Homo sapiens: one gene and its partners. The protein of the gene in region 1 interacts with the protein of each later gene in a biochemical or structural test. Each region holds a gene or a part of one and is shown on either strand. Other genes may lie near its edges.

Evidence for each region.
Region 2: the proteins of SEC31A (region 1) and PEF1 form a complex in vitro, tested with the Homo sapiens proteins (one study listed by BioGRID).
Region 3: of the proteins of SEC31A (region 1) and KLHL12, one has a biochemical effect on the other in vitro, tested with the Homo sapiens proteins (3 studies listed by BioGRID, with this or other methods).
Region 4: the proteins of SEC31A (region 1) and SEC13 form a complex in vitro, tested with the Homo sapiens proteins (2 studies listed by BioGRID and IntAct, with this or other methods).

What each region holds. Positions count from the first base shown.
Region 1 is NC_000004.12:82,881,152-82,888,177, forward strand, and holds part of SEC31A (protein transport protein Sec31A), read right to left. Parts: intron 790-7,026; 5' UTR 786-789; coding exon 707-785; intron 1-706. UniProt on the Homo sapiens protein: Component of the coat protein complex II (COPII) which promotes the formation of transport vesicles from the endoplasmic reticulum (ER).
Region 2 is NC_000001.11:31,641,863-31,649,384, forward strand, and holds the start of PEF1 (peflin), read right to left. Parts: upstream 3,015-7,522; 5' UTR 3,003-3,014; coding exon 2,979-3,002; exon of another isoform or gene 1-2,978. UniProt on the Homo sapiens protein: Calcium-binding protein that acts as an adapter that bridges unrelated proteins or stabilizes weak protein-protein complexes in response to calcium.
Region 3 is NC_000001.11:202,917,219-202,924,244, reverse strand, and holds part of KLHL12 (kelch-like protein 12), read left to right. Parts: intron 1-4,336; coding exon 4,337-4,490; intron 4,491-5,856; coding exon 5,857-6,074; intron 6,075-7,026. UniProt on the Homo sapiens protein: Substrate-specific adapter of a BCR (BTB-CUL3-RBX1) E3 ubiquitin ligase complex that acts as a negative regulator of Wnt signaling pathway and ER-Golgi transport.
Region 4 is NC_000003.12:10,304,113-10,311,138, reverse strand, and holds part of SEC13 (protein SEC13 homolog), read left to right. Parts: intron 1-5,446; coding exon 5,447-5,580; intron 5,581-5,982; coding exon 5,983-6,106; intron 6,107-6,966; coding exon 6,967-7,026. UniProt on the Homo sapiens protein: Functions as a component of the nuclear pore complex (NPC) and the COPII coat. At the endoplasmic reticulum, SEC13 is involved in the biogenesis of COPII-coated vesicles.

The DNA of each region.
Region 1 (7,026 bases):
AAAAATCTCTGTAAAAATGGTCCCGTGATGGGGGCTGGGCACGGTGGCTCATGCCTGTAATCCCAGCACTTTGGGAGGCCGAGATGGGTGGATCATGAGGTCAGGAGATCAAGACCATCCTGGCTAACATGGTGAAATCCCATCTCTACTAAAAATACAAAAAATTAGCCAGGCATGGTGGTGGACGCCTGTAGTCCCAGCTACTTGGGAGGCTGAGGCAGGAGAATGGAAGGAACCAGGGAGGTGGAGCTTGCAGTGAGCAGAGATCACGCCACTGCATTCCAGGCTGGGCGAAAGAGCAAGACTCCATCTCAAAAAAAAAAAAGTCCCGTGATTTACTATATCTGCTTATAGACATATATGATATAACTATTTCTTTTTATATAAAAATGCTAACATCAAAATTGCTCTTCATTCATTCAAACTGATATTAACTGTTTTTTTTACATGCCATCTATTGTGCTTAATACTGGAGGAATAAAGATAAAATACAATTCCTGTGAAGGAAAATATTTTAGATGTAACACATCATGATCAAAATGCTATGGGAACACAGAGGAAGAACACTAAACTTGGCTGATAGAATGTCAGTAACTTGCCAGGGAGAGAGAGGCTTTCTAGAGAAGATAAAGCTTAAACTGAATAAGCTAGGTGCAGAAGAGAAGAAATTAGGTAACTCATACTATCTTCTCTCCTTTGAACTTACCTGTTGCTAGGTAAATGGGGTGATTCTGGGCAGGGCTCCATGCCTGCATGGCTGTACGATCTACTTCCTTTAACTTCATCCTGCTAAAGGGAATATTTTATACAGAAACAGCCTTGAATGACTTGAATGTCTAACACAGAACACAGATATTTTAAATAGAAACATACTGAACAAACCACTACAACATTAGTAATGCCCAACTGCAAATAAATCAAATCGGTTTAGGTGTCATTTGTTGGATATATTCATTAGAAAGAAGACAAACTTGAGGCCGGGTGGCTCATGCCTGTAATCCCAGCACTTTGGGAGGCCAAGGCGGGCGGATCACGAGGTCAGGAGATTGAGACCATCCTGGCTAACATGGTGAGACCCCATCTCTACTAAAAATACAAAAAATTAGCCGGGCGTGGTGGCGGGCACCTGTAGTCCCAGCTACTCAGGAGGCTGAGGCAGGAGAATGGCATGACCCGGAAGACAGAGCTTGCAGTGAGTTGAGATTGCACCACTGCATGCCAACCTGGGCGAGAGAGCAAGACTCTATCTCAAAAAAAAAAAAAAAAAAAAAAAAAAAAAAAGACAAACTTGATAAACCATTTTGAGACAAATACTGGGCTATTCTGTTTACAGATTATAGTTCTTCAGTTGAATCAGTCTAGAAAAATAGCCCACAAAAATAATAAGGTAGTACCTGAAGAATTAACTTTGCTACACATGTGTTTATCCAACTAGGATGGATGACAAAACATTACGGGTAAGAGCAGCCAAAAAATAAATAAGGTGCAACTTCCTGGAGTAGGATTACTCAATGATAAGAGCAGTTTAAAAAATTAATTCAAAGTTACAACATATTAGAGAGAATATAGTAAGCCCACAGATTTTAAAGATAAAGTAGAAATTATTAGAAAACTGGTCACTTCAAGGTATAATCCCATATACCACTTGTTTACGTATTTTCTGTCATTAAAGTTACTTTGATGGAGTCAGGCATGGTGGCTCATGCTTGCAATCGCAGCACTTTGGGAGGACGAGGCAGTTGGATCACTTGAGGCCAGGAGTTCGAGACCAGCCTCGCCAACATGGCAAAACCCCGTCTCTATTAAAAATACAAGAAAATTAGCCAGGTGTGGTGGTGCATGCCTGTAATCCCAGCTATTTGGGAGGCTGAAGCAGAAGAATCACTTGAACCCAGGTGGTGAAGGTTACATTGAGCCGAGATCATGCCACTGCACTCCAGCCTGGGCAACAGAGCGAGACTCGGTCTCAAAAAAAAAGTTACTTTGATGGAAAAATTACAACGGTATAGTATTATGTACTTTTTAAAGATCTTTGTTATTTTTACATAAATATATTGAAATGGCATAGTACTGCACTATAAGATGTACCATAATTACCTAGTCTAATACCAACAAACACCTAAGCTGTTTTTAGCTATTTTTACAAAAAAGTGCTGAAATAAATGGTCATCTGCACGTTATTTCATTAAAAAGGGACAGCTATAAATTTCCAGAAGTAAAATTGCTAAGTTAAAAGGTTAATGCAATTTTAATTTTGATGAATATTACCAAGTTGTCCTCTATGGCAATTGTGCCTTTTCATACCACCAACAGTAATATACGATTACTTATTGCCCTACAGCCTTATCAGAGCATACTGTCACACTTTTAGATCATACCAACACTAAAAAATGAAAGGCCAGGTGCAGTGGCTCAGGCCTGTAAGCCCAGCACTTTAGGAGCCGAAGCAAGTGGATTGCTTGAGCCCAGGAGTTCAAGATCAGCTTGGACAACATGGTGAAATCCCATCTCTAGAAAAAATACAAAAATTAGCTGGGCATGGTGGTGCACGCCTGTAGTCCCAGCTACTCGGGAGGTTGAGGAGGAAGGATTGTTTGAGCCCGGGAAGTTGAGGCTGCAGTGAGCCGTGATTGCGCCACTGCAATCCAGCCTGGGCGACAGAGTGAGACCATGACTCAAAAAAAAAAAAGAGAAAAATAAAAATGTTAGCTCTGTATAGTAATACTATAAATGATGTATAACATCTTTTTTTTGTATGACTATGGGTAAACATATTTCCTTTTCTGTCATCTCTTCTGTCTAGTCATGTATTATTTGACCATTTTTCTTTTCTATTCTTTTTTTTTTTTTTTTGGAGATGGAGTTTCGTTCTGTCACCCAGGCTGGAGCACAGTGGGGCGATCTCGGCTCACTGCAACGTCTGCCTCCGGGTTCAAGCGATTCTGGTGTCTCAGCCTCCCAAGTAACTGGGATTACAGGCACACACCACCACATCAGGCTAATTTTTTTGTATTTTTAGTAGAGACGGGGTTTCACCATGTTGGCCAGGCTGGCCTCGAACTCCTGACCTCAGGTGATCCACCTTCCTCAGCCTCCCAAAGTGCTGGGATTACAGGGGTGAGCCACTGCGCCCGGCCATCATTCGACAATTTTTCTATTAAGTTGATAGACTATCTTTTGACTTTGCTTTTTTCAAAAAAAAAATTTCTTTTCACCTTTCATAGGATTTTGATTAAAAATAAAAAAAGCTATATGCTTTATCTTTTAGAGTTTTACGTTCCTAGAAAAGTTGAGCCACAAAGTACAAAAAATTGCTACACATTTCCCAACCACATAACCTTTCTCACCACCAACATCGCACATCATAAAGGTCTATTTGTTTCGATCCATAAACTAACATGAACACATCATTATCACTGAAACTCCACAATTTATATGAGGGCTCACTCTAGGTGTTGTATATTCTATGGGTTTTGACAAATGTATAACAACATGTATCTGTCATTATAGTATCACACAGAGTAGTTCCCTTGTCCTAAAATCCCCTATGCCTATAATTCCTCCTTTCCTTTCAATAGAGCCTATATAGTGAATTTTTGTGAATTGTTCTTGGGACCTAGAAAGAAGGGGTGCTCTCTGTTTTCAGGGCCTAGAGCTCAATATATATTAACTAAGTCCTCTTTATTGATTTGTTTAGATCTCCTATATCCTTACTTTTTTGTCCACTTGATCTGCCTTGGACCGAAACAGTGAATTAAGTCTCTTACTGCTAATATATTTATGTCAATTTCTCATGGTATCTCCTGAAACTTTTGCTTTATGAAAATTACTTTGTTATTTAATAGTTATTTGGTGCATATCCATAATGTTCAAATTCACTGTCAAATATACACTTTAGCTTTATGAATATCCTTCTTTGTCTCAAATAATGACTTTTGGTCTGAATTCCACCTCTTGTTTGCCTTTACATGTATACTTTTGCCCTTCAGAACTACTTTGTCATCATTACAAACAAAATAACAAACAAAAAACCAACAGATTTTACTGGTGATCCAATTTGAAAATCTTTTCACAGTAGGTTAGCTAAGGACATTTAAAATGTATTGACATGACAGACATGGTTGGTCTTAGTTTTACCATATTTTACTTTGGTTTAATATCTTTGGGTAATAATTTTTAAAAAGTCTTTCATTGTCTGTTTTCTTTTTTGTGCAATTACCATTTTTCTGATAATTAGGATGATGTATATTTTCATTATAATATGTGTTTCTGATTCTATCTTTTTAACTGTAATTTTAAATATTTTACTTAATACCATTAATCCTCTATTTCTTTACACAGAAACTATTAACTCCCTACTATGAGCACTTATGAAATTAGCTTGTATAATCTTACTGCCCATCCACACAACATGGTTATAGTCAATAGTATTATCTTTCTCAGTGTTTACCTTTGAACTCCTTATACTTCTACTAACTGATCTGTCAGCTTTAAATGATGTCCTTTGACTCATAGCCATTACAGATGTGGCAATTCACAAACTTATTCTACCTCCAATTTCTTTCCTCTTCTCTTTTTATTAGTTGTATAATCAATCCCTTACATTATTGGACATTTAACATTTACATTTTATTCTTTCTTCCTCATTCTCACTTTTGTTCCAGTCTCAGTCCTGCAGTTAAAATGCATACTCAATGCTCTCCAAGAGTATTTTTGCCAGTTTCCTTACTCAGCTCCAGAGTTTATCCTCTAACATTTTCCTTAAGATTGCCTTAAACATATGCTCCGAGTCTTGTACCTGCAAATTGTTTATATTTGAAGGAGATTTTATAGAGGAAAAAATTAAGACACAGAAAGTTAGACAATCTGTACATGCTAGCAAGGGGGCAAGGGGCAGAGCCAAGATTGGAACTTGCAAGTTTAGCTCCAGAGTTCTTTCTACTTCCAACAAGTTCAGGTATTCAATTTTTATATCATAGAGGAAATATTAACATTTAGAAGAAACAATAACAAAGCAACCAGCATGCATGATGAAACTGAAGAAATGCATTTTAGAAATTGTGTTAGGTTAGAGCAAAGTGAGATTAGGAGGCAGGATGTATCACATGGTTAAAAGCATGGTCTCTGGAGTTAATCCTCAATTTAACTACTGGCTCTGTTACTTATTAGCTATGATACTTTGGACACATTATTTAACCTCCCTGAGCCCCAGTTTCTACATTCGTAAAATAGGGAAAAGAGTGACAACCTCATGGGATGCTGTGAGGTTCCAATGAGATCATACGTTTTATAATAGGGAGCCAAAAAAAGTGCTCAGCACATGGGTTAGTGCTTTTGATAGGTTTGCTATTTTTAAAGATTACCACTATCATGAGATTAAACAAGAAAACTTCAGGGTTATTTGGGGGGAAAAATTCCAACTTTCTAAGATATAAAAAAGGCATTTATTTTCTTACATGAATCTCCTCTTCTTCCTCTTTGCCAACTGTCTCACCTGATCTTTAATAATAAATTCAAGTTCCAGCTCCTCCATGAAAACTGCCCTGATGATTCAATCCACATTGATCTAAATACTCCCCGACAAGTTTGTACTTGTCAATACTATGATTTAAGCATTTTATAATAACGTCATTATATTTTAATAAACATTTTGTAACATTCTACTAGCACATATTGTTTACATATTTTCCAATTACCTTTTTTTAACCAGTTGCCTTATGTGCTATCTTATCTCACCAACTAGACAAATAACGTCTTTTTTCAAAACTTTTACCCCTTTTTAGACTCAAAATTGCTTAGCACAGAAGGAGATATACAGAAAGTTTTGATTTATTTTAAATGTTTATATTTAGGGGAAAACAAGTAGACTAATGAGCTAGAGTGACCAGTTTCAGATAAAACATTTACTTTTAAATTCTTAACTCTTTAAAGGATCATTTACTTTTTAAAAAAGGAGAAAGTATGGTTAAGGGGGAAAAGGTTATAAGATGCCTTCAGAATAATTTCTAAAAGTGAAATCAAAATAGCTGTATTATTAAAAAAATGGAATACAATTATAGTATTTCTAAGACCTAAGTACAAGGACTACCTAATTCATTAATGCTTGGTTAATGTGTAACATTGACTGAAAAAGAAAGAGACACATTTATAAGAACATAAAATAGTTAAATGTGAATTCAAAGCATTTACTAAAGTTTATTTCTTAGCCTTAGTACTCAATGTTCTAAGAAAACATTGAGAAAAGAAAAGAAAAGAAAAGAAAAAAGAAAGGAAAAGAAAATTGTGTGGGCTTGTTCATACATGCCATCTCCAAGACAGTATCTATAGCACGGCAATTAAGAGCATGGGGTCTAGGGCAGACACCCTCAGTTTAAATTCCAGCTTCACTATGTCCACCTCTGACTTTAATCATGTCGCTTTATCCATGTATGTCCTGGCTCCTCTCTCATTAAAATAAGGAGAACAGTATCTATACTACAGGGTTGTTGTGAGAAATAAGTGGTATTACTCAGAGTGGTTAGAACAGTGCCTGGCATATATAAACAAATGCTCATAAATGACAGTTATTACAAACATCACTACTTAAAACGTCTACCACCACGAAACTTCAAAAATACATCTATTAGGCCGGGCGCGGTGGCTCACGCCTGTAATCCCAGCACTTTGGGAGGTCGAGGCGGGCGGATCACGAGGTCAGGAGATCGAGACCACGGTGAAACCCCGTCTCTACTAAAAATACAAAAAATTAGCCGGGCGCAGTGGCGGGCGCCTGTAGTCCCAGCTACTCGGGAGGCTGAGGCAGGAGAATGGCGTGAACCCGGGAGGCAGAGCTTGCAGTAAGCTGAGATCATGCGACTGCACTCCAGCCTGGGTGACAGAGCAAGACTCTGTCTCAAAACAAACAAACAAACAAACAAACAACAACAAAAAAAACATCTATTAGCCAGGCGCAGTGGCTCATGCCTGTAATCCCAGCACTTTGGGAGGCCGAGGTGGGCAGATCACTTGAGGCCGGAAGTTCGGGAC
Region 2 (7,522 bases), on another chromosome or scaffold:
GCACTTTACGTGGATTTTCTCATTTAATCTTTAGAGTAATTCTGAGGTAGATACTATTATGACCCCATTCTAAAGAAGGGAAAACTAGTCCAGGCGTGGTGGCTCACGCCTGTAATCCCAACACTGTGGGAGGCTGAGGCAGGTGGATCACCTGAGGTTAGGAGTTTGAGACCAGCCTGGCCAACATGGCGAAACCCCGTCTCTACTAAAAATACAAAAAATTAGCCAGGTGTGGTGGCGTGCGCCTGTAATTCCAGCTACTTGGGAGGCTGAGGCAGGAGAACTGCTTGAACCCGGGAGACGGAGGTTGCAGTGAGCCAAGATTGTGCCATTGCACTCCAGCCTGGGCGACAGAGCAAGACTCTGTCTTAAAAATAAACAAATAAATAAAAAATTTTTTTCAAAAAAGGGAAAACTGAGTCTCAGACTTTTGCAACAAACTTCTGCAAGGGAGTGACAAAGCAGGGATTTGAAATCAACTCTCTCTGGCCTCAAAAACTAAGCTCTTAAGCACTGAAATCCACCAAGCTCGTTCCCCCATAGGACCAAAGGGTGCTTGAATTTTACTACTCCAATACCCAGTCCCTGCTTGGGTACCCTGGACTGGAAGCAGTGGAAAATTACAGGAATTCTGACTCCTAACAATAGGCTGGAATCCTCCAAAGCTATGTAGTGGGTGGAGGGGAGGCAGCACTGACTGAGATGCTTTAAAACAACTCGTTTCCTTTCTTAGAACACCTGAGACCAGGAGGCGGACAAGGGTATGGTAGGAAAAAAAAACAACATTTCTTTTTCTATTCCAGACTCTTCTCTCTGTGCTCCTTTTCAGTATTTCACTCCAGGAATAGCCCAGGCAGCATGGCATCATGAGAGCAGTCACGGCAGCAAGAGCTGCCACCAGACACTGGCATGTACTAGGCACTAGCAACACGCCAGGCTCCCTGCATTTTAACCTCATTTTAGCCCTTTTCACAGGTATTATTTCTCCCTTTATACAGGTGAGGAAGCTGAGGCTCAGAGCCCTTAGTTTGTCCAGGGGTATATAACTATTAAGTAATACAGCTAGAATTCTAGCACAGTTCTCTCTAACCTGTCACTGCTTTTAGGATGCACACCAATTGTCCCTAATGCTTATTAGCATGTAGATTCCTGGGTACAGAACAGGTCTGAAGTGGGACCCAAAAGTGTGCTTTCTTAAACAAGCTCTCAGCTGATTCTGAGGCAGAAGACCAGCCACTGGGAAACAAGGCGCTATGAATGTTTTTTCAGCCTGTGTTCCTCAGAAATACTAGAGTCAAAAAAGTGACCAGACATCTGAAAAGAAAGCCGGGAGGCGGAGTTTCTATGGTTAGATATGTTTAAGAAATACTGCATATTATATTCCTTTCTGGATGATTTACAATGTACATTAGCAAATTAAGGATTCTGAAATAGCTTGTGGTCAATAAACTTATTCAGCTATACTTAAGAGTATTTCCAAAACTTTAGTTAACTACAGAATCCTCCTATATTAACAATATCTATTAAAACCTCCCAAGACTCAGCAAATGGAATGGACTTTAGGAAGCAACTGCTATGCTACACTTCCTAACTCCAGCCCGCACTGGCCTCTCTCTTTCCTACCTCTCTCTAAGGATGCAATAAGAGAAGTCCTAAGCTCTGGTCATGGCCTCACCCTCACTTACTACGTGTGACTTTTGGGAAGCCACTTAACCTCTTTGGGTTTGCTCCTCAGCAGTTAATTAGGGGTAATAATACCTGCATGCCGATAGGGACTTCATGATTAGGATAATGGAGGTCCAAACACTGTGTAACCCGCACAAGACTGCACTCCCTGGAAGGACTGTTACATCTTTTGGCCTGTGACTAAACTCAGTTGAGCACTGTGTAATATACCAATTGATCTTGTTTTCCCACATTTCGTTTATGGATTTCATCTCCTAAATAACTGTGTGATCGCAGCCCTCTGTGGGCTTCATTTCCTCCTCTGTAAAATGAGGGCTCTATTTTGAGGACCCTCCGGGCACTGGCCTTTTAGAAGTCTACTAAAAATCAAAATGCTAAAGGGCAACACATGTTACACCTCACTATGTACCAAACGCTTCGTAAGCATCACCTCCTGACTCTCCACAACAGCTTTATGAGGCAGATCCTATTATTCGGCCCTATTTTACAGGCGGAAACTTGGACTCAGAAAGGCAAAACAGCTTGCTCAAGGGCTCACAACTATTTAGGTGGTAGAGCTAAGATATGAACCTACCTCTGACACCAAAGTGCACTTCAACACCCTACTATCACCCAACAAAGAATTCTGGCCACAGAATCACCTTGCTGCGGTATTCCTGACTGAATCAAGATACGCTGGGGAAGAGGCATCTGAAGATAGCCCGGGTTCTGACCTCGGCCCTGCTGCCTAACTGCCTGGTGACTTCAGGTAAGTTCTGTGTCTTCTCGGGGTTCACTTTTCTACACGCGAAATGGCGGTGTTGAACTAAGTCAGTGGTCAAACCAGCTCACTTGTGGCGCCTGCTACAACCAGAGTTTCCTGATGACTCTGATGCAGTGTGGGGTGGGTCCGGAAGCCTGGATTTTTATCCGACGCCCCAAATGAGATCGGCGGAACCAGAACTCTAAACCTCCGGTCATGGCTGATGCCCCCGCCCAAGGCCCCCATGAGGGCCTTGGGAGGCTGTGGAGCCCAGGCCAGCGCCAGCCTGGACCTGTGGGGTCCAAGGTCCCCAAATCCTCGAGTGAGCGACGTCAAGGGGGCGCGACACGACCTCGCGAATGTGCGGTCCTTCATGACGTGAGCAGGGCGCGACCGACGGTCCCTTTTCGGTTCTCTACAGCGCAAGGCCTCGCTGAAGCGAACCCATCGTGGGAAGGGCGCGGAGAAAGCGGGGAGAAAGAGCAGGGGGACGTCGGGCCTGCGCCTGGCACCGCCGCTACCTGGATTCGCGGGCCCCTCACACACTCACCTGCCGGTAAGGATAGCTGGCCATGGTGATTCTGACGTCACACTCAGGCAAGGGGTGGGGCTTTCCGCTCTCAAACCCGCCCCTCGTCTCGGCTTTGGGGCTGGGCCCGCATCTGATTGGACGTCCGCGCCTGTCAATCTTGGGTGCTGTCGGCCGACGGAAGTGACGATGGGGGCGGTGGGCGGATGCCTACCCGAGAGACCAGGGGAGCTAAGTGATTGATGGAGCTTCCGGAAGTCTTGGCGGCTGTACCAGCGCTAATGTTCCTCCTTTTCCTGAGGTGGAGTGGGCCGAAGAGGTGGTCAGGTTGGGAAATTTAGTGAGAAGCCTGGGTGGGGTGTTGCTGCGGTAGCCATGTTATAACCTGGCAAATGGGACGCATGATAGTGACGTAATTGCTGGAGTAGCTCCTGAGTTTCCGCAGATGAGCCGCGGGAAAGGAGACGAGGGGCGGTGGCCAGGCGGTTGCCCTGACAACGGGGAACCGACCGACTCTTCCCGGTAGGGAGAGGCGATGGCGGAATTACTCCTCTAATGTCAAGGTACTGGGTACCAGTTAGTACCCTTGTAGTGGGATACAGATCTGTGGTCTTTGGAGAAAAAAACCCCAGATCATTAGAGTTGGAGGAAAATTGAATTATCTAGTGCCTCTTTCTTCATAAATGGGGAAACTGAGGTGCAGAGAGGCAGTTGCCTTGCCCTAGCTCACAGTGGGTCGCCTAGAACCGGGGTCAATGGATGTCCAGTTCTCAGCAGGGAGGTCTAGGTCGGTCCCCATCGTAGGTCAAATCCTGGTGACCGAGTGATCTCAGCACCATGTACTTGCCACTCAGTGGTTCCGTTTCTACACTTATTTGTGTGCTTATTTGATTTCTTTGTCAAGTTCTTTCATGTGGGCTAGGGTTTTGTCTGTTTTTGCTTGTCATTATAACTCCAGTACCTAGTATAGCGACTGACACGATTATTAAAATAAATGAATAAATGAATGTTACGAACTGTTATCCAGTCTAGTCCATCTATCTAACCAAGTGCACTTTCCAAAATCACAGTGCTGATCATGCCACTTGCCCACTACACAGCCTACAATGGATGCTCTTCATCCACGCCTACAAAATAAGGCCCAATCTCTTCATTCTGGTACTCCAGGCCCTTCAGAATCTGGCCCAGCCTCAACTTTCCAATCTTACGGCCCCTTCTGCTACTCTGTATTTCTGTGCTCAGTTCCACCATTCAGCACTTCTGCTTTGGAGGGAGGATCTTTGTTTTATCACTTTCTAACTGTATCACCTTAGGCAGGTTTTTTGTTTGTTTGTTTTTAATTTCCAACTTTTAAGATCAGGGGTATATGAGCAGGATGTGGTTTGTTACATAGGTAAATGTGTGCCATGGTGGTTTGTCGCACACATCATCCCATCACCCAAGTGTTAAGCCCAGCATCCATTAGCTATTCTTCCTGATGCTCTCCCTCTTCCCACCTCCCTCTACGCTCCGACAGACCCCAGTGGTGTATGTGCTCTCCTCATTCAGCTCCCACTTATAAGTGGTAACATGCGGTGTTTGGTTTTCTGTTTCTCTGTTAGTTTGCTGAGGATAATGGCTTCCAATTCCATCCACGTCCCTGCAAAGGACATGATCTTGTTCCTTTTTTATGGCTGCATAGTATTCCACAGTGTATATCTACCACATTTTATTTAGGCAAGTTATTTAACCTCTCTAAATTTCACTTTTCTTAGCTGACAGGAACAAATGTGTAAATTTGAAAATGAGCTTATTATACCTGCTCATGCCCCAAACTTAGGTTCAAACCACTCCTTTCACCTGGACCAGCAGCCCTCCCAACTCCAGTCCTGCAAGGCTCAGTTCCAATTCCATTCTCCACCTAACCCTCCCACATTCCCCTTAGCTCCAGAGTTAGCCACTCTCTCTTGCCACTCCCCCTTTGCACTTGGTACTGTCACTGTGTGGTATTCCAGCCTGCCTTGTATAAGAGTTTTCTTTTGGTGTTTTCCCCAAAACCCATTCCTCTCCATCTCAGAAAATCCACCCAGTCTCTCAGGCCAAAAACCTAAGATCATTCCTGTGTGTCCTTTTTTTCTCCACACACTCCCTCACCTCCCTCATCTCCATTTGCTCTAATTCAAACATGTACACATCTGCTCTTTTCTCCCTGTTCGCACTATCACTGTAGTCCAAGACACTATCATCCGTGCCTGGATCACTACAATAGCCGACTGACCAATGTTCCTGCTCTCACTCTTCTCCCCACGCTTCATTTTCTCCACAGGCAGCCAGAGTGGTTATCTTATTCCTTGGCTTCAACTCCCTGGGGACTTCCCATCACTCTTATAATAAAAGCTAAACTCATCCTAATGACATTCATGGCCACACATACCAGCATCTCCAGCCTCATTTCTTGCTGTTGCTGTCCCCCTTGCCTCATTCCAGCCATGCCGGCCTGGTTGTGCCATTCCTGGAATGTACAGAGCTCATTCCTGGATGTTGGCTTTGGCTGGTCTCTGACTGCCTGCTCATTCCTGCCTCCAGGTCTTTGGACTAGCTTTTCCCTCTGTCTGGGATAGTCTTCCCTTGACTTTTCACTGGTTGGCTTCTCCTTATCATCCAGGTCTCAGTTCAGATATCACCTGGGGTGGGGGGAGTTTCTTGACACTGCCCCCCAAGCATTCCCATCATCTATCTTATTTTTTCATAATACATGTCACTAGTTGAATTGTCCACTTTGTTTACATGTATATTGTAGAATTGTCATTTTCTTATGTAGTCCTCTAACCTCAGCACCTAGAATAGTGCCTAGCATGAATTCAATGTTAGTAGTTATTATTATCATGTATTGAGTGCTTACTAGGTGCCAGACGTTGTGCTAAGTACTATGTGTTGTTTAATTTTCACCACAGTCTTTTGAGATAGAGACTATTACCCATTTATAATGAGGAGCTGAGGCTCAGAGAGGTTAAGTGACCTTCCTGTTATCAAAAAGATAAATGGAGCCCAGGCGCAGTGACTCGCGCCTATAATCCCAACACTTTGGGAGGCAGGGAGGAGGACCGCTTAAGCCTAGGAGTTCGAAACCAGCCTGGACAACATAGTGAGACCCTATCGCTACAAAAAATAGTTTTAAAAAATTAGCCAGGCATGGTGGCATGTGTCTGGAGTCCCAGCCACTCCAGAGGCCAAGGTGGGAGGATTGCTTGAGCCCAGGAGGTCAAGGCTGCAATGAGCTGTGTTTGCACCACTGCACTCCAGCCTGGGCAACAGAGAGACTCTGTCTGGGGAAAAAAAAAAAAAAAAAAAAAGATAAATGGAGAAGTAGGACTTGATCCCAGGTCTGCATTTTTTTTAACTACTCAGTATTTAATAGTTAGTAGATTGTGTCTTCTTTACCTTCCTAACCCCCCAGTTCAAAAAATATTGGTGGAATTGAGCTGCAAAACTTCAGAAGGGAAGAAGGTTGAAGGTCAAGTGGGTATTTGCCTGGAGAGAGAACAGTGACAAGCTGGCCTGCAAACTGGAGTCATGTGACACACACTCATTTATTCCACAAACATATGATCCCATTGGGTTCCCACCTCTTGCCAGGCTCTGTTCTAGGTGATGAGAATCCAACTCCTATGAGAATTATTTGCCCCCATTCCCCTATGCCCAGCAAAGGGCTTAGGAGAACTATCTGTGGGAGGTCTGTGCTATTTCGTGGATGGAGCATCCACATCTTCTCTTAGGGAGTCAGGAACGTGCCAAAGCCAACAGCCAGGGCTGTGCCTCTGAGGACCCACACAGGCCCAGGTATGTTTGTTTTGGAGGGGGCTGGATAAAAGAGAGATCAGGATCTTCCTAAGACTGAAAAACAATCAACTCACTTCCAAAACCTCATCTACCTGAGGCAGACAGAGGTGGGTGGAGAAGTTCCTGTTATTGTTTCACTTGTAGCCCAAGGGGAAAGCATGGATTCCAGACTTTTTTTAGAACACAGAGCACTTTCCTGAGTTCGTGGAAGCCCTGCGGTTGACCCATTAGGGGTGAGGCAGAGCTTGGTAATGAAAAGCCCATCCACTGGAAAATATTGCCTCCCCTAGAGACACAGCCTCCCAGGAGCCACTTGGCTCGCACCAAGCTTCTGTAAGGCTTACTGAGAAGGAATACCAACACCCACCTAATTATTATGGAATTAATTCTCTTTGATTCCAACTAGATCCAGTTCTGAAATTTAAATTCCAGTTGGATGCTGTGGATCAGAGGATGATTTGCAACTTTCCACAGAAGCAACAGAGGAATGAGAACAGCAGACGTGGCAATTTGGCCACACTCCCCTTCCATTATGGGATCATAAGTAGAGTACGTTGACATCGTCTATTCCCATAAACTGTTCAGGACAGCCACAAAAAAGATCTAGTCCTTTGGGATCTCCAGCACCAAAAAAAAAAAAAAAAAAATATCCATGGCCGGGCACGGTGGCTCACATCTATAATCCCAGCACTTTGGGAGGCCGAGGCAGGCAGATCACCTGAGGTCAGGAGTTCAAGACCAGCCTA
Region 3 (7,026 bases), on another chromosome or scaffold:
ACTTAACAAAGGGAATTAGGAAAAGGTTGGCTTGAGAGAATACAGGTAGTGCTCACAAAGTATTAAGAAACACTACTTAGTAATTGCCTGACAAAATACTTGAAATGTATAGTAAGGCTGCTGAATATATTGTGTTGAATATTCTTAGAAAGCTGAACAGAAAATAACATTGCAAATCTTTGTTTTTCAAGATCCCAAGTCTCATTTTAAGAGCAGATTTAAATAAATTATCTTGATTTATTTTTTCAAAGCTCAGTTGTGGGTGCATCACTGTTTATTATATAATTTACACTTACATGTATGCCTGAAATATTTCATTATGAAAACACTGTTTTAAAAGTCTTTTTAAGCACAAGTTTTTTGTTTGTTTTTTGTTTTTTTTTTAGTTAGTTCTATCATCTTAGTGTAGATATTGCTGCTGAATCAGAATGGGAGAGGCGTATTCTGTGATGGTAATAACTACCTTTTATGGGCCAGGTACTGTGCTAGTAATTGTTGTGCATATCTGACTCACCCTAGGGGTAGGTATTACCATCTCATTTTACAAATGAAGGAATAGGGTTTCAGATATTAAATCACTTGCCCAAAGTCCCATGGCTTGTAAGTGCTAGAGGTGGGATTTCATTTTATATTTTCCAACTCTAAAGCCCAAACAGTTTGTAACTCTTGTGCCGCCTTAGCCTCCGAAGTATGAATTTTATATACTACAATCTAATTTTAAAACTGGTATAGTTAAAAATACTATGAGCCAATGCTCAGTCACATGGCTAGTAGGGAAAACAGGAACCTGACAGGTCATTCCAACTAATTCAGGCTAATTTTTAAATAAACTTGTGTGATATACCAAGGCAGATCCCTGTCCTATACTGTTCTCCATGAGATATACCCAAGATCATCAGAAGCATTTGGAATTTAACTGGGTAAAGAGAGTGTCACCCAGCAGCTGCTGAGCAAGAAATGAACTAGAACGGCTGATTGCTAATTATATGTTGTGCATCCTGTTTTTTGTCAGCTTGAAAATAGTGTCTTTACTCTTTTGTTATTTGGAAATGAATTCTTTTTTTCTCATCAGTGATGATTTCTTTCTTTAAAAACTGACATCAGGCAAGGAAATGCTAGATGGTTTTGTCTTTATTTTTGAGAGTAATTGTTCAAAGGAGAGAGTCCAGAGACCTGGATTCTAGGCTTAGTTCTCTTAGCAATTCTGTATAAACCCTGGGAACCATCTAACTTCACTGGGTTGATCTGTAAAATAAAGTAGTTGAACTAGATGGTTTCCTTGTTCTCTTCAGCTATGAAATGCTCCTCAAATGTCATCTGATTGAAAGATCACAAAGACTGAGGCAGGAGGACCTGGGTTTTGTCTCTCTCTCTCTCTCTTTTTTTTTTCCTGAAATACTTTAATAAGAATGATATCTGTCTCTTACTAGCTAAGTGACTGGTTAAGTCTTGGATCTTCAGCTGGGCGTGGTGGCTCACGCCTGTAATCCCAGCACTTTGGGAGGCCGAAGCAGGTGGATCACGAGGTCAGGAGATCAAGACCATCCTGGCTAACACGGTGAAACCCCGTCTCTACTAAAAATACAAAAAATTAGCCGTGCGTGGTGGCGGGCGCCTGTAGTCCCAGCCACTCGGGAGGCTGAGGCAGGAGAATGGCGTGAACCCGGGAGGCGGAGCTGGCAGTGAGCCCAGATCACGCCACTGCACTCCAGCCTGGGTGACAGAGCGAGACTCTGTCTCAAAAAAAAAAAAAAGTCTTGGATCTTCTTTGATCTTTAGACCCTTTATCGCTCTCTCTTTTTTTTTTTTTCCTTGACGCCTGGCTAATTTTTTGTATTTTTAGTGGAGACGGGGTTTCACCATGTTAGCCAGGATGGTCTCGATATCCTGACCTTGTGATCCACCCACCTCGGCCTCCCAAAGTGCTGGGATTACAGGCTTGAGCCATGTGCCCGGCCCCCCTTTATCTCTTAGATAGTAATAATATCAGACCTAACTACCTTACCAGGTTGCTGTGAGAATCAGATGAAATAGTAGTAAATGAGAAGCATGCTGAAAAATTCTAAAGCAAAATATAACTGTAAAATGTATAATTGCTCTAAGTTCTTACATAGTGAAATTGTTTCCATATTTAAACTATTTGATGGAAATGTAGTTTATTGAATGAGAAATTTCTGGAATACATGTACTTACATATTTCAGTACCATAATTATTAAATGCATTTAATGTGTTGGGATAGTAATTGTTTATGAATATTAGTACTGTATTAAATGTTAATAAAACCTAATATGTTTTTTCAAAATAATGTGCTAGTGACTTTTTTAGTGTTAGGGATTGATTTTGTTCTTGGCTTTGGTAGAGAGTGCTTTTTGGTTATTCTCTGGCTGATGGAGAAATAAAAAACGTTAAAGCCATTTAGTTAATAATGGAGATGCACCAGAGTTTTTTAAGTAAAATGAATTTCTAAACTAAGATTAAGATCTAGTAAAATTTTCATAAGGTATTTTCAGATAGTTTCCTGTAAAATTGAAGATTTCTTCTCTTAGCTAAACAGTTTTCTATGATTATCTGGCCTCATCAATACTCATAGCTTCAAGAAGATATACTACTAACAATTTAGACTAAATATACTGCTAACAATTCAGTTAGTCTAACCCAATATTTTGAAAAAGTAACAAATAATTTATTTGTATTCAGATGATGTTACATAAGAAAGTCCCTTAGGATGACCTGCATGTTCTTTTTCGTCATTACTAAATGCAGTCTAAGGGCCGGGCATGGTGGCTCACGCCTGTAATCCCAGCATTTTGAGAGGCTGAGGTGGGCAGATCACTTGAGGTCAGGAGTTCAAGACCAGCCTGGCCAACATGGTGAAACCCCATCTCTACTAAAAACACAAAAATTAGCCAGGCATGGTGGCATGTGCCTGTAGTCCCAGCTACTCAGGCGGCTGAGGCAGGAGAATCGCTTGAACCTGGGAGGTGGAGCTTGAAGTGAGCCAAGATTACGCCACTGCACTCCAGCCTGGGCAACAGAGCAAGACTGTGTCAAAAAAAAAAAAAAAAATTAGCTGGTTGTAGTGGTGTACTCCTGTAATCCCAGCTACTTGGGAGGCTGAGGCACGAGAAACACTTGAACCTGGGAGGCAGAGGTTGCAGTGAGCTGAGATCACACCACTGCACTCCAGCCTGGGGAACAGAGCAAGACCCTATCTCAACAAAGGGGAAAAAAAAGTAGTCTAAGGACAGATGATAGGAACTAGGTAGTCCTGGAGAGACTGGAGTTATAACCCACAGGCTCCTCTACGAACATGAAATTTCTTTGAAATATTGTGTCTTATCTTAAAAGTTCACGGACCAGTGTTATGTTCATGGAACTTTTGCATTCTATTCTGTAAATACATCTGTATTTTAATATGAAATAGATTTTTAAAGTTATTCACTGGCAAAATTACTATTCCAGGAAGGTGTTACCTATTACTTATTCCTGGCGTATAGATAACTACCTACTTCATTTGGAAAGCTACAGATAATGTGCCATATTTGCTTTATTAAAATCCAACAAAATTGGCCGGGCGCGGTGGCTCACGCCTGTAATCCCAGCACTTTGGGAGGCTGAGGCAGGCGGATCACGAGGTGAGGAGATCGAGACCATCCTGGCTAACACGGTGAAACCCCGTCTCTACTAAAAGTACAAAAAATTAGCCGGGCGTGGTGGCGGGCGCCTGTAGTCCAAACTACTCGGGAGGCTGAGCCAGGAGAATGGCATGAACCCAGGAGGTGGAGCTTGCAGTGAGCCGAGATGGCACCACTGCACTCCAGCCTGGGAAACAGTGCAAGATTCCGTCTCAAAAAAAAAAAAAAAAAAAAAAAAATCCAACAAAATAGAGCATAATTTTATTTTTTTATTTTCTTTCTTTTTTATTTTTTTGAAATGGAGTCTCACTCTGGTGCCCAGGCTGGAGTGGAGTGGCACAATCTTGGCTCTCTGCAACCTTCGCCTCCTGGGTTGAAGCAATTCTCCTGCCTCAGCCTCCTGAGTAGCTGGGACTACAGGCATGTGCCACCATGCCCAACTAATTTTTGTATTTCTAGTGGAGACGGGGTTTCACTGTGTTGGCCAGGCTGGTCTTGAATTCCTGACCTCAGGTGATTTGCCTGCCTTAGCCTCTCAAAGTGCTGGGATTACAGGCATGAGCCACCACGCCTGGCCTGTAATTTTTAAAGATAAATGTTCAATTAATATTATTAACATCTCTAAGCTCTTAGATATGAGATTCTGCCTTTATCTTGTGGAATTATAACCATCATTCTTTTATACCTTTTGAATTTTCAGCTCTCAGAGAAGGGGAAACCTTATGTTGACATCCAAGGTTTGACTGCCTCTACCATGGAAATTTTATTGGACTTTGTGTACACAGAAACAGTACATGTGACAGTGGAGAATGTACAAGAACTGCTTCCTGCAGCCTGTCTGCTTCAGTTGAAAGGTACAGACATTAAAACTTGCTATTGTTTATGTCAAAATAGCCCTGGAAAGGTTGAAAATTAATAGTGTAAACTTAATCATGAACATTTTGGAGACAAACTATGGATGTTCATGTTTGCTGGCCATGGCTTTTGTCTCATTGAGCAATAAGAGATCAGATGTCAATAGCACTATAAAGGAACTTCTCCAGATATGAGTATTTGGCTCTATAAAAGAGAGCATTTGCACCTTTTCTGTTTTAAAAAAAAAATGGAGGAAGGAGAAATTATGTGTTTTCTTACATACATGTATGTAACACACCTATAAGGAAATATAATAAAAAAGTGATACTATACATAGCCTACATGGATACTCTTTATCTATCTGGCCATTAAGTGGTAGTATTTCATTAAGATACATGAAATTTAAATTGATGCACAAAATATTAAAGTATGATATTTTCACAGGATTACAGGTGGTTTGTTTTCCCTTACAATTCCCAGGTTTTTTGTTTTGTTTTTGAGACAGAGTCTCACTCTGTCACCCAGATTAGAGCACAGTGGTGCAATCACAGCTCACTGTATCCTTGAATTCTTGGGCTCAAGCAATTCTCACACCTCAGCCTCCTGAGTAGCTGGGACCACAGGTGCATGCCACCACACCCAGCTAATTAAAACAAAATTTTTTTGTGTGGAGATGAGTTCTCTCTATGTTGCTCAGGCTGGTCTCAAGCTCGTGGGCTCGAGTGATCCTCCCACCTTGCCTCCCAGAATGCTGGAATTATAGGCACGAGCCACCGTTCCTGGTCCCCAGTTTTTCTTTTTTAACATTCAGTTATGTTTTCAGTTTTTATATATACATAATTGACACACTTTTAGTTTTTAATACATGATTTAAACAGTGTGAAGCTTTTGCATTAGTGCATAGCCATAACATTAAAATACTCTGAACTTTTCAATTAGATAAATATGAGATTTGTTATTACTATCTTCTCCTTTTCTTTCACTCTAGTCTTTTAGTAAGTTTTCATGTAGAGTAGAAAATGGATACATTATGCTGAATTCGCAATTGGTTTTATAGTTTGATTCCCAAGAGTTTTATAGGCATTTTTGTTGAATTGTGCCAGGTCTCTGGATGTGATTCATCTTGCAATACTCATTTTAAAGATTAAGCAGAGACAGGTGTAAAGGTCTTGCTGAAAGTGGCACAGTACATAAGCCAGAAATAGAGTTTAAGTTCCTTAAGCATAGAATTTCTAATCTGTTTCTTAGGTGTTGAAACAAGGGTTCATCTGATAACATGTAGAGAAGATGCTGAGATACAAGAATATATCCTAGATCACACCTGTCCAACTATTCTAAAGTGTTTGCTGCCTGTGTCTGTCCTAGGTGTGAAACAAGCCTGCTGTGAGTTCTTAGAAAGTCAGTTGGACCCTTCTAATTGCCTGGGTATTAGGGATTTTGCTGAAACCCACAATTGTGTTGACCTGATGCAAGCAGCTGAGGTTTTTAGCCAGAAGCATTTTCCTGAAGTGGTACAGCATGAAGAGTTCATTCTTCTGAGTCAAGGAGAGGTGGAAAAGCTAATCAAGTGCGACGAAATTCAGGTACGGATTTGTCTTGATGTTATGGTTTCTTCAAGATTGGGCAATTACAAAACTTGCAAATAGGATGCAGTTACTTACCATCAGGGCTTCATAATTAAGTGTGCATTTTGGCTCAAAGATTTCATTAACCCCTCCTGTACCAAATTTATTTGCATTTTTATGGAGAGGGAGTTTGCCACTTTCTTCAATTAGATATATGATCCCAGTGGGTAAGAATCACTATTCAACAGAGTATAGAATAAGCAGAAATTGGAAGTAAAGTAGGTATCTGTAGACCACTTCTCTATTACCCGTTCACTCATTTCACAAACATTTATTGAGAATATCTACTATGTAGCACTTAACTATGCCAGGTGCTACAGATCCCCAAGTGGGTAAATATAGTTCTTGCTTTCAGAAAATTCACAACCTGCTAGTAGAGACAGAGATATAGACAAAAAAAATGTTATAAAGAGGATCATGAGAATAGTGAGCCTATACAAAGTAAGGACATTACATAGAAGAAAGAAGAATAAACCTTTGCTCAGGAGTGGATCAGAAATGAAGAGACAAAAGTTTGGAAGTGAGGATCTACAGAAGCAGGAGCCAAATCATAACTGTCTTGTGAGGATGCAGCGGTTGGAAGGGAGGGACACATGAACTGGATGTTAAAGGAATAGTAGGCCAGGTGCAGTGGCCTATGCCTGTAATCCCAGCACTTTGGGAGGCTGAGGCAGAACTGCTTGTGTCCAGGAGTTTGATACTAGCCTGGGCAACATGGCAAAACCCTGTCTCTACAAAAAAATAAAATTAGCCTGGCATGGTGGTGAGCACCTGTGGTCCCAGCTACTTGAGAGGCTGAGGTGGGAGGATCTCTGGAGCCTGGGAGTTTGAGGCTGCAGTGAGCCATGATCGCACCACTGCACTCTAGCCTAGGCAACAGAGGGAGACCCTGTCTCTTGCGGGGGAAGAA
Region 4 (7,026 bases), on another chromosome or scaffold:
TTGTGTGAAAGGAAACCAGAGTACCAGGAGAGAGCCCACGCAGACACAGGGAGAACACACAGACTCCACACAGGCAGGGGCCCCCGCTGGGAGTTGTTTTTTTTTTTTTAATCTTGTCAGCATTATAATGAAATGAAATTGAGGATCAGTTGTACATAGAATGAGACAATCTGTGGTCTTTTGTGACTGGCTTCTCCTACTTACTATAATGAGTTCAAGTTTCATCCATATCATAGCGTGTATCAGCACTCCATTCCTTTTTATGGCTGGATAATACTCCATTGTGAATATAGACATTTTGTTTATCCATTCATCAGATGATGGATGTTCTCGGCCTTATGAATAATGCTGCTATGAACATTTGCAGATAAGTTTTTGCATGAACATATGTTTTTAATTCTCTTGGGTCTATACCTAGGTGTGAAATTGCTGAGTCATATGGTAATTCTGTGTTTAACTTTTTGAGGAATTGCTAAACTGTTTTGCAAAGTAACTGTACCCTTTTACATTCCCATCAGCAGTGTATGAGGGTTCTAATTTCTCCACATCCTCACTAACATATGTCTGTCATTTTGGTTACAGCTGTCCTAGTGAATGTGAGGTGGTATCTTATTGTGATTTTTTGGGTTTGTTTTGTTCTGTTTTTTTGAGACGGAGGCTTGCTCTGTCACCCAGGCTGGAGTGCAGTGACATGATCTCGGCTCACTGCAACCCCCGCCTCCCAGGTTCAAGCAATTCTCATGCCTCAGCCTCTTGAGCAGCTGGAATTACAGGCACACGCCACAACACCCGGCTAATTTTTGTATTTGTAGTAGAGACAGGGTTTCACCATTTTGCCCAGGTTGGTCTCAAACTCCTGGCCTCAAGTGATCCGCCCACCTCAGCCTCCCAAAGTGCTGGGATTACAGGTGTAAGCCACCACACCCGGCCCTTATTGTGATTTTTATTTGCATTTTGCTAATCAAAGATGATGGTGAGCATCTTCTGGGGGCCTTTGGAGAAATGACCAGGAGGGGTTTGCACTCTGTAACACCGAGTGAGTGGAAGCGGCCCACAATAAGAAAGGCTGAAGGGGCGGGAAGAAATCTGAGCTCTGTGATCCTCCAGAGCAAGCCTCTGGGACAGGGCCCCTCAGGAGGAAGAACTGCAGGAAATGAAATCACAGTTGAGCTGGATAGGGACACAGGAAAGGAAGGATGAGATGTAGACCAATGTGGGGAAGAGGAACAAAGACAGGAACTCCTGAAAGCCATCTCCCACGTTTTTTAACACCACACAGAAACAAGGGAGAGTTCTGAGCTTAGACTTTCCTGAGCCTTTCTTATCAGGAAAACTCATCTCACCTAAAAATAACAGAAAAGTATTTGAAGTGAAATTGCATACAGTTGTTATATAAGAAACAAGAATATGCAAAATAACCTCCCTGCGGACAATGAGAGCACATTAGAAAGACATGCCCACATAACCGAGCCAAGCTGTAACCTGCTATTTCAAATCAAGCCAGGTGACATTCTAACAATACAAAACAAGAGAGAATAGTGTAAATCAACTTTTTAAAAATCAGAAATAAGGTGACAGAACTCAGGAAAGAATTAGAATTAAAAATCATTTCAGAAGTAAAGAAAGACTAAGACGAAATGCAAGTGTCGATGAACACAGCAGATCCTGCCTGAAAAGGATAAACAGTGTGAAAAAGGAAACATTTCAAGAGCAAAAAAATGAAGAGGTAAAAAGGTTTTGACCAAAAGTAAAGACAGGCAGAAAGGTCAGACATACGAATACCAGGAGTCCCTGGAAAGGAAAACAGAATACCAAAAAGTAATCCAGAAAACTTTCTTAAAATTAAAAAACAAAGATTTGAAACTTGAGATTGAGAGATCATACCCCACACTTAACAATATCAGCCGGGCGCAGTGGCTCAGCCTGTAATCCCAGCACTTTGGGATGCTGAGGTGGGCGGATCACCTGAAGTCAGGAGTTTAAGACCAGCCTGACCAACATGGCGAAACCCCGTCTCTACTAAAAATACAAAAATTAGCCAGACGTGGTGGCGCACACCTGTAATCTCAGCTACTCGGAAGGCTGAGGCAAGAGAATTGCTTGAACCCGGGAGTCAGAGGTTGCAGAGAGCCAAGATCACGCCATTATAATCCAGCCTGGGCGACAAAGCAAGACTTGTCTCAAAAAAAAAAAAAAAAAAAAAAATCAAGGCCAGGCGTGATGGCTCAGCCTGTAATCCTAGCACTTTGGGAGATCGAGGTGAACTCCTGTTTGAGGCCAGGAGTTCAAGACCAACCTGGCCAACATAGTGAGACCCCGTCTCTAAAAAAAAAAAAAAAAAAAAAAATTCAACTCAGCATCACCAACAAAAAGATATAATTCTAGTAAAATTATTAGACTTTAAAGAAAATTTTGGGGGGTTCTAGAGAAAAGGAACCTTGTGACTTAAAGGGGAAAGACAATTAGATTATTGTCAGACTCTTCAATAGTAAGGATTGGTGCAGAAGAAAAAAGAATAACATGTTTAAAATACTCCAGGAAAGAAAGTGTGAGCCAAGGATTTATAACCAGGAAAATTGACTTTGAAGTTCACACAAAGACTTATACACAAAAGGTTATAGCAGCTTTAATAGCCAAAAACTGGAAATAGTCCACATGTCCATCAACAGGTAAATGATAAGTTGTGATATATCCATACTTTGGAAATACTGCGAGCAATAAAAAGAAATGACTGCAATAAAAAGAAATGACTTAACAAAATAAGATGAAGAATAAATTTCAAAATAATTATGCTGAGTGAAAAAAAGAAGAAAAAGGACACACTGTGATTCCACTGCTGTAATATCTAGGAAATGCAGCTGAGCAGGCCCATGGTCACCACGATTGGGGGCTGCAGGATGGGGAGATGGATTACCAGGGGATCCGAGGAAACTTTTGGGAATGATGGGCATGTTCCTTATCTTGATTGAGGTGATGTGATGATCCTACAGGATATATTTTTGTCAAAATTCACCAAATCATGCACTTGATATGCAGTTTATGTCAATTATACTATATCAAAGCTGTTTTTAAAATTAGCTTTTGAGTGTAAAGGATATGAACTATTATCAATATGCAAGAATTCAGGGACTATTGTTTCTAGGAGCCCTTCCTGAGAAATCTACTAGAGGATACAAGTCACACAACTAAAATGACTACAAAGACTTCAGCATAAATATATAGTTACTTGTAGAGAACTAAGACGAAATGAGGGTTAAAAGGCTGGGCCCAGGGCAGGCACAGTGGCTCACACCTGTAATCCCAGCACTTTGGGAGGCTGAGGCAGGCGGATCACCTGAGCTCAGGAGTTCAAGACCAGCCTGGCCAACATGGCAAAGCCCCATGATGTGGTTTGGCTGTGTCCCCACCCAAATCTCATTTTGAATGCCCATGTGTTGTAGGGGGTAACCAGTGGGAGTTGAGTCATGGGAGGAGGTCTTTTCCATGCTGTTCTCTTGATAGTGAATAAGTCTCACAAGATCTGATGGTTTTATGAAGGGGAGTTCACCTGCACAGGCTCTCTCTCCCTTTTTGCTGCCATCCATGTGAGATGTCACTTGCTCCTCCCTTGCCTTCTGCCATGATTGTGAGGCCTCCCCAGCTACATGGAGCTGTAAGTCCATTAAACCTCTCTTTTTTTTGTAAACTGCCCAGTCTCAGGTATGTCTTTATCAGCAGCGTGAAAATGGACTAACACACCCCGACGCTACTAAAAATACAAAAATTAGCCAGGCGTGGTGGCACACACCTGCAGTCCCAGCTACACGGGAGGCTGAGGCAGGAGAATCACTTGAACCTGGGAGGTGGAGGTTGCAGTGAGTCAAAATCGCGCCTCTGCACTCCATCCTGGGCAACAGAGCCAGACTCTGTCTCAAAAAAAAAAAAAAGGCAGTGGCTCACACCTATAATCCCAGTACTTTGGGAGTCTGAGGTGGGAGGATCACTTGAGCCTACGAAGTTTGAGGCTGCAGTGAACCATGATCTTACCAGCCTGCACTCTAGCCTGGGTGACAGTGAGACCCTGTCTCAATTTTTAAAAAAAAAAATTGTTAATAATAAATAAAGAGGAGAATCAGTCATCTTTGGAAAGTGATAGAACCAGTTCAGAAAGAATCAAGCGTTTATCCAGCCTTTCCTTTTTGACCTTGTATTAGTCTGTTTTCTCGCTGCTGGCAAAGACATACCCAAGACTGAGCAATTTACAAAGGAAAGAGGATGGAGAACTCACAGTTCCACGTAGCTGGGGAAACCTCACAGTCATGGCAGAAGGCAAGGAGGAACAAGTCACAGCTTACGTGGATGGCAGCAGGCAAAAGAGAGAGCTTGTGCAGAAAAACTCCCATTTTTAAAATCGTCAGATCTAGCGAGACTTATTCACTATCATGAGAACAGCATGGGAAAGACTTGCCCCTGTGATACAATTACCTCCTACCAGGTCCCTCCCACAACACGTGGGAATTCAAGATGAGATTTGAGTAGGGACACAGCCAAACCATATCAGACCTCTATCCCTGGGTAACTGAATAGTTAATGAGAAGAAGTGTCCCTATCTGGAGCATTCCATGGAATAAATGACAAAGAAAGGATGGAATTAGAGTATCACCATTTTACAAGCCCCAGTGAATTAAGAGAGGCCTGAGTTATTGACAGCTGTTAATATAAGAGACAATCTAACGTGCCTCCTGATGAGAGAACGCACCAGCTCTAGTCTTGCCAAAGGGATCACACCTGAGTCTGTCCAGTCTTGGCTCCAGCTGACAGTTTTCAGGAATTCAGAGGAACATATTGAACTGCATATGAAGCAGCAAAACCCAGACCGAGAGACTAGGCTCTCTTCAGCAGAAAAATTGTAAGGAAAAAAATCAGAGGAGGAATCTGCAAAGTAGGAGATGTAAAAAACATCCAAAAAAATGTTTAATGGACAAGACTAAACTATAGTATCTAGGGGTGCACATTTGGGTGATAAAATGGGGGGAAAATGGGTTAGAAGTTAGGGCAGTGGTTACTTATAGTGGAAGAGGGAGCTGTGATTAGGAAGGGCATAATGACAGGGCTTTTCAGGCAGGTGGCAGAATTCTTGTTTCTTGATCTATTACTTTATAATAAAAGATTTTTCTTAAAAAAAAGCTCCAATGTACCATTCTTTCATGTGTTTAGAAAATGTCCTGTTTCTTAAACTTGTGGGAGTTCTTAATTTCTACTTTTAGCGCACACTGCAGAAAAATGCACACACTGTTGGGATCCTTGAGGGAGAATTCTGAGCAGTGGACCCCATGATGAGTGCTTCATGTCAGCCTTCACACACACTCCAGTCCTGAGAAGCGGAGGGGAGAGGGACAGCAGGCTTGGGTCTGCAGAAGCAGTGTTCTCTTGCAAGGCAGAGTCACCATGTGTCCCATCTTTACAGATTGGCTGCAATGCCGTCAGCTGGGCCCCTGCTGTTGTACCTGGAAGCCTCATAGACCACCCATCGGGGCAGAAACCCAATTACATCAAGAGGTTTGCATCAGGTGGCTGTGACAACCTCATCAAGCTGTGGAAGTAAGTAGGGATGTGTGGCCTTCTCTTTGAGGGGACACTTCTACCCTTTACCCTACTCACCATGACTCAGCCACACTCACAAGAAACAAGGTCACCTTTCTTTCTCCCTCCTGCCAGTAAAATACTGTTTTCAATCTGTTGGAGGACATCCTTGAAAAACAACACAACACCTGTTCACCTAATTCCCAACTGTTGGAGCTGACTCTTTGGCTGTGGAAGCAGAGCATTTTCTGGAGGGTTTTTTTTACAGCTGGGGTGAAGGGAATAAAATGCCACAAACTCCATGAATGAAAGAAGAAAGATGGAATCGCTTCTCCACCCCAGGCAGAGCCTGTTGGGTTGGGGAGGAGTTGAGGTGTGGGAACGGCCCCCTGCTGATTCTCTTTCTGTCCCCACTGTTAGGGAGGAGGAGGACGGCCAGTGGAAGGAGGAGCAGAAGCTAGAAGCGCACAGTGACTGGGTTCGAGATGTGGCCTGGGCCCCCTCCATCGGCCTGCCCACCAGCACCATCGCCAGCTGCTCCCAGGTCAGCCCAGGGCCATGAGTATCCCTTGTCATTTAGTCTCGAGTCAGGCCCATCAGCTCTTAGTCTCCTTAGCAGAAAGTCCTCTGGGAAGGTAAAGGGAGAGCAACAGGCACCTTTGGCCCAGAGCACAGGGAGTCAGGTCATTGTGTGGGGAAGTCTTGGTCAGAAGCCACAAGTGGCCTGCCTCCACTGAGATGAGACAGCTACAACAGAACCGGCACCAAGAAGGAGGCGGATTCGGGATGAATTTTCCCTTCTGACCCATGTGAGACTAGGGCGCCGAGGTGCCCAGGTGCAGTTCCAAGTGTTCCCAAGCAACGATGGGGTTGGATGGGAATTATACGCTTAGCTACCAAGCCACCCTTCCCAGACAGCAAGGACGGCCAAGGGTGAGCCTTCAGTTATACACCACCACCCTAGAGGGAGCCAGCTAGGCCTTTCACATCATGGGAACCTGTTTGGTTTGGTTCTAAACTTGGGATTTTTGTGCTTTTTTACTTGTGCCTTCTCATTCTTGGAGCTTGGTTTTTGGAGAGCTCTGCCCATTCAGTTGAGAAGGTATAGACGGCCAGTGGAAGTGACTTGGCAGGCATGAGGAAAACCCCAGAGAAAATCTGAGTTAGCAATGCAGACAGAGTCCACCTCCGAAACCCGGATGAGAAAAGGAATCCGGGAGACTCTTAACCAGTGTGAAGAGACAGAAACAAAGCTGTGGACGCCCCAGAGGTCCTCGGCTCCCCTTTGAATCCCCCACCCTGTTCCTGCAGAGAGGTGCCGGGTGGCTCTAGACTGGGAGGACATCACATCACAAACGCAGGAGTCTTGACTCCACCTCCTGACTCTATCCTGTTTCTTCCTAGGATGGTCGTGTGTTCATTTGGACCTGTGATGATGCCTCAAGCAATACGTGGTCCCCTAAA